Linked DNA regions of Homo sapiens. The protein of the gene in region 2 binds, or shares a complex with, the protein of the main gene of each other region. Each region holds a gene or a part of one and is shown on either strand. Other genes may lie near its edges.

Evidence for each region.
Region 1: the proteins of NTRK1 (region 2) and SHC1 are in contact, whole or in part, in an NMR structure (PDB 1SHC), measured with the Homo sapiens proteins. Residues at the interface, in NP_002520.2 of Homo sapiens: His489, Ile490, Ile491, Glu492, Asn493, Pro494, Gln495, Tyr496, Phe497; in NP_892113.4 of Homo sapiens: Met176, Arg177, Ala178, Leu179, Ser259, Ile260, Ser261, Phe262, Ala263, Ser264, Gly265, Gly266, Lys279, Asn283, Arg285, Ile301, Ile304, Gly305, Phe308, Glu309, Phe312, Lys313, Gln314, Tyr315.

The regions. Positions count from the first base shown.
Region 1 is NC_000001.11:154,967,948-154,972,247, reverse strand, and holds the start of SHC1 (SHC-transforming protein 1), read left to right. Parts: upstream 1-1,500; 5' UTR 1,501-1,721; coding exon 1,722-2,216; intron 2,217-2,799; coding exon 2,800-2,870; intron 2,871-3,413; coding exon 3,414-3,477; intron 3,478-3,633; coding exon 3,634-3,753; intron 3,754-3,990; coding exon 3,991-4,044; intron 4,045-4,216; coding exon 4,217-4,268; intron 4,269-4,300. UniProt on the Homo sapiens protein: Signaling adapter that couples activated growth factor receptors to signaling pathways. Participates in a signaling cascade initiated by activated KIT and KITLG/SCF.
Region 2 is NC_000001.11:156,863,865-156,867,364, forward strand, and holds part of NTRK1 (high affinity nerve growth factor receptor isoform 2 precursor), read left to right. Parts: intron 1-489; coding exon 490-564; intron 565-863; coding exon 864-935; intron 936-3,045; coding exon 3,046-3,114; intron 3,115-3,500. UniProt on the Homo sapiens protein: Receptor tyrosine kinase involved in the development and the maturation of the central and peripheral nervous systems through regulation of proliferation, differentiation and survival of sympathetic and nervous neurons.

The DNA of each region.
Region 1 (4,300 bases), 1.9 Mb from region 2:
TTGAGACGGAGTTTTGCTCTTGTCACCTAGGCTGGAGTGCAATGGCTCGATCTCGGCTCACTGCAACCTCCGCCTCCTGGGTTCGAGCGATTCTCCTGCCTCAGCCTCCTGAGCTGGGATTACAGGTGCCCGCCACCACGCCCAGCTAATTTTTGTATTTTTAGTAGAGACAGGGTTTCACCATGTTGACCAGGCTGGTCTCGAACTCCTGACTTCAGGTGATCCACCCGCCTCAGCCTCCCAAAGTGCTGGTATCACAGGTGTGAGCCACCGCGCCCGGTAGGAATACGTATCTTTGTTTTTTTTTTTTTGGTCACTTTCCAGCTTTGCCTGTGGCATTCTCCGGAAGAGCAGTGGCAGGAAGCCGTGGGTGGCAGGAATGGGTTTGGGACTGTTCCCTGTGTCCAGCTTCAACCCATCTTCTCCTGACACCCCTTTCTCCTGTACTTATTTTTCTCCTGTCCTTATTGACGCAGATGTGTCTTCTGATCTCTCTGTCCCTTCCTGGCCTGTAGTTTCTACTTCTCTTGGAGAACTGTTTCTTCCACCTCCTCCAGCCAGGCTCCTTCCCTGGTGTGAAGGATGCTGTGCTCTTTGGTGGGGCTTAGGGCCCTGTAAGAGGAGGGATGTGAATTGGGGTGGTTTGGAGTGGGAGTGGGGACCTGATTGCCTCATTCTCACCCTTGACAGTGTGCTGTGTTAACAAGCCCTGTGGAAAGGGGAGACAGGACAGTGCTTGGCTATGAGCCATCGGTCTTGGTGTGGTAGATGGCATACGTAGAGAACAAGCCGTGACCAGCATGTCCTCTTGTTCCCTTCTTGCCTGGTAGCTTCCTGATGTATCATCCAGGTTGAACTTTATTCCCCTTTTTTCACCAGCTTTGCTCTTCCTCTTGGCCCTGCTCTGCATCCATTGGGACCACTTACTTCCCATCCCCACTTCGCTAGCTCCAGTCCACAGCTGCTGTAGCAGAGGATGCTAATGGCCCAGGCTTACTGTATGGGGTAGCGGTTGGGGGTGGCCTGGGCTGGGGCCAGCCAGCTTTCGGGCATAGAGAGGGTGGGGGAATTCGAGTGTCCAACCAGGACAGGAAGGGAAATGCTGAGCTCTGAGATCTCCTCCCTTTTCCACCCCCAGCTGCCTCTGTTTCCTCCCTCATTCCCCTGTACTCCTGCCTGGCTTCCTGCCCCCTTTGGCCTGCGTGTGTCCGGTTTTGAGTGACCCAGACCTCCTATCTCCTTCCTTTCCGTCCCACTCTTCCATCCTTCCCTCCCACCCCCACTTTACTTCTCCCCAGATTACTAGTTGTTTGTATAGGGCAGGGGAGAGGGGCTTGGATAGCCCTACCCCCTGCTCCAGTTCGAGGTTGGGGCGGGGTGGGGGCTCAGCCCCTCTGAGCCTGTGAGTCAGCACTGTCCTCACGATTGGTCTCTCCCCTTAGCTCCCCGCCCCTGGGGAGGAGCCAGAAGCGCTGGGTCCAGCCTGTTCTCTTCTCAGCCAGAGAAGAGGCTCCACGTTGGGCGGGGATGGGGCCTGAAACTGTCTGGGTCTGAGCTGGGGAGCGGAAGCCACTTGTCCCTCTCCCTCCCCAGGACTTCTGTGACTCCTGGGCCACAGAGGTCCAACCAGGCTAAGGGCCTGGGGATACCCCCTGCCTGGCCCCCTTGCCCAAACTGGCAGGGGGGCCAGGCTGGGCAGCAGCCCCTCTTTCACCTCAACTATGGATCTCCTGCCCCCCAAGCCCAAGTACAATCCACTCCGGAATGAGTCTCTGTCATCGCTGGAGGAAGGGGCTTCTGGGTCCACCCCCCCGGAGGAGCTGCCTTCCCCATCAGCTTCATCCCTGGGGCCCATCCTGCCTCCTCTGCCTGGGGACGATAGTCCCACTACCCTGTGCTCCTTCTTCCCCCGGATGAGCAACCTGAGGCTGGCCAACCCGGCTGGGGGGCGCCCAGGGTCTAAGGGGGAGCCAGGAAGGGCAGCTGATGATGGGGAGGGGATCGTAGGGGCAGCCATGCCAGACTCAGGCCCCCTACCCCTCCTCCAGGACATGAACAAGCTGAGTGGAGGCGGCGGGCGCAGGACTCGGGTGGAAGGGGGCCAGCTTGGGGGCGAGGAGTGGACCCGCCACGGGAGCTTTGTCAATAAGCCCACGCGGGGCTGGCTGCATCCCAACGACAAAGTCATGGGACCCGGGGTTTCCTACTTGGTTCGGGTGAGTGAACATCCTCCTCTCCATTCCCCCGCAGACCCCCTCCAGTTCTAATGCTCACTCCAGCTTGGCCGGAATCTCTTTTTTCCTGCTGTTCCCCAACAACCCCGTTTCAGTGTCCTATTTCCTAAACCTTTCTCATCCCTTCCCCGATTCTGTAGCCCCTTCCCTTCCAGCTTTGCCTGGGCCCCCTTCCTTCTTTTCACTCCCCCACCCCCACCCTGGCATGCTTAGCACAATGCCCAGCATGGCAGAAGCTCTTAATAAGTGTTGGAATGAATGACTTCTTGATCTTTCCTCCATTCTCCTCCCGCTTTCTGGAGTTGTCACTCCATCCCAGCCAATGCCTGTCGGTCCCCTCCAAACTCTCTCCCCAGTGTGTGAGGTCCTTCTAGCCTGCCTTTTCTTTTTCTCCTCATTCCCTGTTGTCTTTCACCTTGGTTGTGGGATGTAGCCACGGGAAGTGGGCAGAACTTCTTCCTCTTTACTTCCCTTAGGGACCATATGGGTAAAGTCCTAGGGCCCTTTGTGAAGGGGCTGGGGTGGGGGAGCCGCTGACCTGCTGTCCTCTTCTCCCTCCCCTTAGTACATGGGTTGTGTGGAGGTCCTCCAGTCAATGCGTGCCCTGGACTTCAACACCCGGACTCAGGTCACCAGGTTAGTGGGGAGGGAGTGGATTGTGGGAGTCCTGGGATTAGTGAGGCCATGGGAAACAGAGGAGGGGAGTGGGTCACTTGGGTGCTGCTGCTGGGGGCTGATCTTTGCGTAGTAAAGGGGATTGAGAGAAAGCTGAGGTAGTGATTCCGCCTCTTACTGAAAGGAGGCCCCTTTGGCCCGGATCCTCCTTACCTATCCAGCCTTGGGAGTTGTGGGGAAGGTGGCAGAAGCAGCTGGCAGGTGGAGCTGGAGTAGAAAAGGGGGGTAGATGGAAGGTTGCTGCTGCCTTTGGGAAGGGAATGGGACATTTGGTAGCTGGAAGGGGGTGGGGCTATACCCATTGAGGCCCTAACCCAATCAGCCAGGAAGTGGCCTCTCAGTGTCATCAAATATTAAAGGCCCTTAATTCAATCCACCATGACAAAGAGCCTGGAGTGCCCTGGGAGTCTGGCCTGGCTTTCCCCTCCCCCAGCCCTGTGGCAGCCCCAGTTGAGTGGGAGGCAGGCAGGCAGGCGCTGGGTCTGAGTACCCCTCTTTCCCCAGGGAGGCCATCAGTCTGGTGTGTGAGGCTGTGCCGGGTGCTAAGGGGGCGACAAGGAGGAGAAAGGTACTTGGGGTCCTTGGGGATAGGGATGCTGCTGGGAAATGTGGAGGGGCAGTGGGGAGGCAAGTGTGGGGCATGTGGGGAGAGGGCCAGGAGGCAAAAGTGTGGTTTGCCTGTGCTGGGAACCCTCACCTTCTGAGACCCTGGGCCCTACCTTAGCCCTGTAGCCGCCCGCTCAGCTCTATCCTGGGGAGGAGTAACCTGAAATTTGCTGGAATGCCAATCACTCTCACCGTCTCCACCAGCAGCCTCAACCTCATGGCCGCAGACTGCAAACAGGTTGGTGAAGGTGGGCAGACGGACCAGAAACACTGATGGGGGTGCTAAGGGGAGATCTAGTTAGGAGGCCAAAATCTAGGAAGAGGGCTTGAGAGCAGGAGACCAGTAGGGAAGGAGGAAATGAGGATATGGGATAAGGAACCCAGAGAATGAGACTGGGGCACCAGGGTTCTGGGCCCTGAGGCTGCCTGACACATGGCATTCCCTTCCTTCTTCATCCCCTGCCCTAATTCTCAGATCATCGCCAACCACCACATGCAATCTATCTCATTTGCATCCGGCGGGGATCCGGTGAGTTGGGGAACAGAGCAAAGGCGGTGGGAGAAGAGCAAGGGGCTAGGGATTGGGAAGACATTGATTAGAGAAGTGGGGGTGCTAGGATTGTGGGGATATCTGAAAAGGACTGGGTTTTAGGGGTCAGGAGTAAAGTAGAACTGTAAAATTTTTTGACCTTCCTCCCCAGGACACAGCCGAGTATGTCGCCTATGTTGCCAAAGACCCTGTGAATCAGAGAGGTGAGGCATGGTGGGGAGCACTGGGTGGGTCT
Region 2 (3,500 bases):
CAGGGATGCCTGATATAAAAGGAGAACACCAATCTGAGAATGGACTTGTGTGTGTGCACGTGAGAGATGGACGTGAGCTTTGTTTCTGTGTGTCCATGGGTGAGCGTGTTCCTGCAGGCACATGTGCAGGTGCATGGCGTCATCTGTGCAGATGCTTATGCCTCTGTGTGTGCGCATGTGCATACCTAGGTGTGTGCATGTGTGCAAGAGGTATGTGAGAATGTGCATATGTGTGAGGGTGTGGGGATCCATATGTATGTGCGCTTGTGTGTTCATGCACACACATGTGCATGTGTGACTTGAGGTGCGTCTCTGTGCACATGTATGCATTTGTGTGTGCACGCCTGTGTAAGTGTGTATGCAGGTCTGAACAGGTGCATATGCGTGTGCATGTGGCATGTGCATGTGTATTGTGAGGGAGTAAGTGGGTGGGCATGGGAACTCAAGTGTGGGCCTGAGCCCTGTGACTCCCATCCGCTCTCCCCACAGCTACATCGAGAACCAGCAGCATCTGCAGCATCTGGAGCTCCGTGATCTGAGGGGCCTGGGGGAGCTGAGAAACCTGTGAGGGAAACGGGGACTGTGGGTGTGGAGCTCAGCATGGGCCTGGGGGAGACCAGAAGGTCAGGGAGGGCTCAAGCATCCGAGGGCCTGGGAGGACCTGAGAGGCTGAGCACTGAGGGACTGGGAGAAGTCAGGAAGCTCAGGGCTTTGAGGGGTCTAGAGTAGTTGAGGAAACAATGAGGGGCCTGAGGAGGGGTAGGGGTTCAGCACAGGGGACTGGGAGGCTGGGATGGGCAGGGAGGGCCAGGGGCCCAGAGTAGCTGAGACCTGGGGACTGATCCTCCTGCACCCCTCCCCAGCACCATCGTGAAGAGTGGTCTCCGTTTCGTGGCGCCAGATGCCTTCCATTTCACTCCTCGGCTCAGTCGCCTGTGAGTGTGGCCAGTGCTGGGCAGTGGGAGTTGGGGAGGACACCCAGACTTGGGCTGCTAATGGGCTTGGCTGTCCCCGGGGAATGATTGCGAGGAGGGCCCAAGCCTGGTCAGGGAAGTCACCTCACCATTCTCCTGGGGCTTCCTCCCATCTCCCTCAGGGATGGCATGCTCTCGCCCCTGACAGCTAGAGGTCCTCCTTGCCATCTCACTTCCATGGTCCATGCTGCAAGGACACTTCTCATAGGTGCCTGCCCTATCTTTCTTCCCAGGGCTCAGATACACACCAGTGCAAAGGGAGCAAGCGGCAGGAGCAGGACTCCTGGGTTCTGGCTGGGACTCCATTTCCCAGGGACTCATTGACTTGGCCCCTAGGACATCCTGGGAGCTGGGGTGTTAGGTCTGCCACTTGTCACCCTCCTCATTCCTGGGAGTCATAACTATCCCTCCTGTAGAGCAGTGGACCCCAACTTTTTTGGCACCAGAGACTGGTTTCATGGAAGACAATTTTACCACGGATGGTGCGGGAGGAGAGGATGATTTCAGGACGAAACTGTTCCACCTCAGATTATGAGGCATTAGTTAGATTCTCAAAAGGAGCACACAACCTAGATCCCTCACGTGCGCAGTAGTTCACAGAATCTAATGCTGCCATTGATATGACAGGAGGCGGAGCTCAGGCGGTAATGCTCACTCACCGCTGCTCACCTCCTGCTGTGTGGCCCGGTTCCTAAGAGACCACATATTTGCCCTGTTTATAGCCCCTCTTCCTTGCTGTGCTTCTCTTTTTCTTTAATTTATTTTTTAAGAGTCAGGGTCTCCCTCTGTTGCTCAGGCTGGAGAATAGTGGCACTATTACCCATCTGTGGCCTGGGAATTGGGGACCCCTGCTGTAGGACAGAGAGGGTCATGGGATGGGCAGGAGAGACTATCAGAGTCCCTGGCAGCCCCTCCCTGGCCTTCTGAGGGCAGGAGTTCAGCTCCCCTGTCCCCCAATATGAGCAGGCAGAGAGATGGGAAGGATGGTGGGGCTGACACTCATGGAGTTATGCAGGGTCCTCTAAACTCTGCTGTGTCCAGCAATTTAACAAAGCAAAATAAAGTGATGTCATATCACCGTCTATGCACCGGGGCTTCAGTTAAAAACGTGCTCAATGACACTTCACGATACTTATGTCAATGAATCTTCACAATCAACCTGGTGAGAGAGAGAGTGTTCTTGTCCCCATTTCATAGATGAGAATTCTGAGAATCAGAGAGGTTGAGTTTCTGGACTGAGGTCACACAGCTGTAAGTGGCAGGATAGAACTTACACCTGCTCTAGCTGGCTCTAGAGTGGGTTGTGTCTTTGGTCCCTATGTGGTGGTACTTCTCCCACCCAGCCACCACAAATTCTAGGTTGGCTAGGAAAGAAGAGGGGTCAGGATAGGCCCCTCAGAGGCAGAGGGTCCCAGCAGCGGCAGCCTGGCACAGGGCACAGGGCACTGGGGCTCCTACATCATTTTCCTGTGTGGCCTGGAGCCGGGCCCCTGCTGGGCTCACTTTTTCCATCCATACAACGAGGGGGCTGGGGGTGTGGGGGTGTGGGTCCTTTCCTGCCTGACCTTTTAGTCCCTGAGGAGGGCCCGGAAGGAGGAGGAGGAGGGGAGCTGAGGAAGTGCGTGGAGTTCCTTGTGGTCAGGTAGGGGCAAGGGAGTGGCAGCCTCAACCCTCCCCCTCTTCCTCTGGCCCCGTCCTGGGCTCTGTAGGGAGGGGAGCACAGATGGACCCCTTCCCCCAGCTGTGGCCTCAGCACTTTGCCAGCTGGGGCCAAAGCAGTGGGGGAGGGAGGAGCGGCTGTTCCCTCAGATCCCCCTCCCTGGGGTCTGGAGAGGGGGTTAAGTGGGGTTAACCCTTGTTGTCCCAGGGAAAGGAGTGGGACTCAGAAAGTCCCCCCACCCCCCACCCCACCATCTACACACACTGCCTTCCAGGGCTGGTTCTGGTTGCCTAGGCCGGGGCGGGGGAGCCAGATGTCAACTTCTTTCTTGGCTCCTCCCCTCCCTCATTCTGGTCAGAGTGAGGTCGGGTCACTCAAGGGGTCTGTCTTGCTGTGTCTCCACGCCCGCAGGAATCTCTCCTTCAACGCTCTGGAGTCTCTCTCCTGGAAAACTGTGCAGGGCCTCTCCTTACAGGAACTGTGAGTGGGGGCGCTTCCAGGGGCAAGAGCACCAAGTGTGTGTGTGCCTGTGTGCACTTGGGTCTGTTGGATGACATTGGGTCACTGTGTCTGTGTGACACTGCTGGGGGGTCTCTTTGGGGACTATGTGCATGCCAGTGAAACCCCCATCAAAGCAGGGGCTGCAGGACTACCCGTTAAGGGGGCTACTGCCCTGAGGAGCTGGCCTGGATGACTGTGTGTGTGCTGGGCCTGGCTGAGCAGATTACAGGCCCACTGTGTGTCCAAGGCACATCTGCCCACATTCCCAGGGCACCCTGCACAGGGGTGAGTGGGGCAGCAGGGGTCCATGTGTACCTGGTGGGCACTTAAAGCCTCTGGGTCACTCTGGGGGGCTGTGCCCTTCC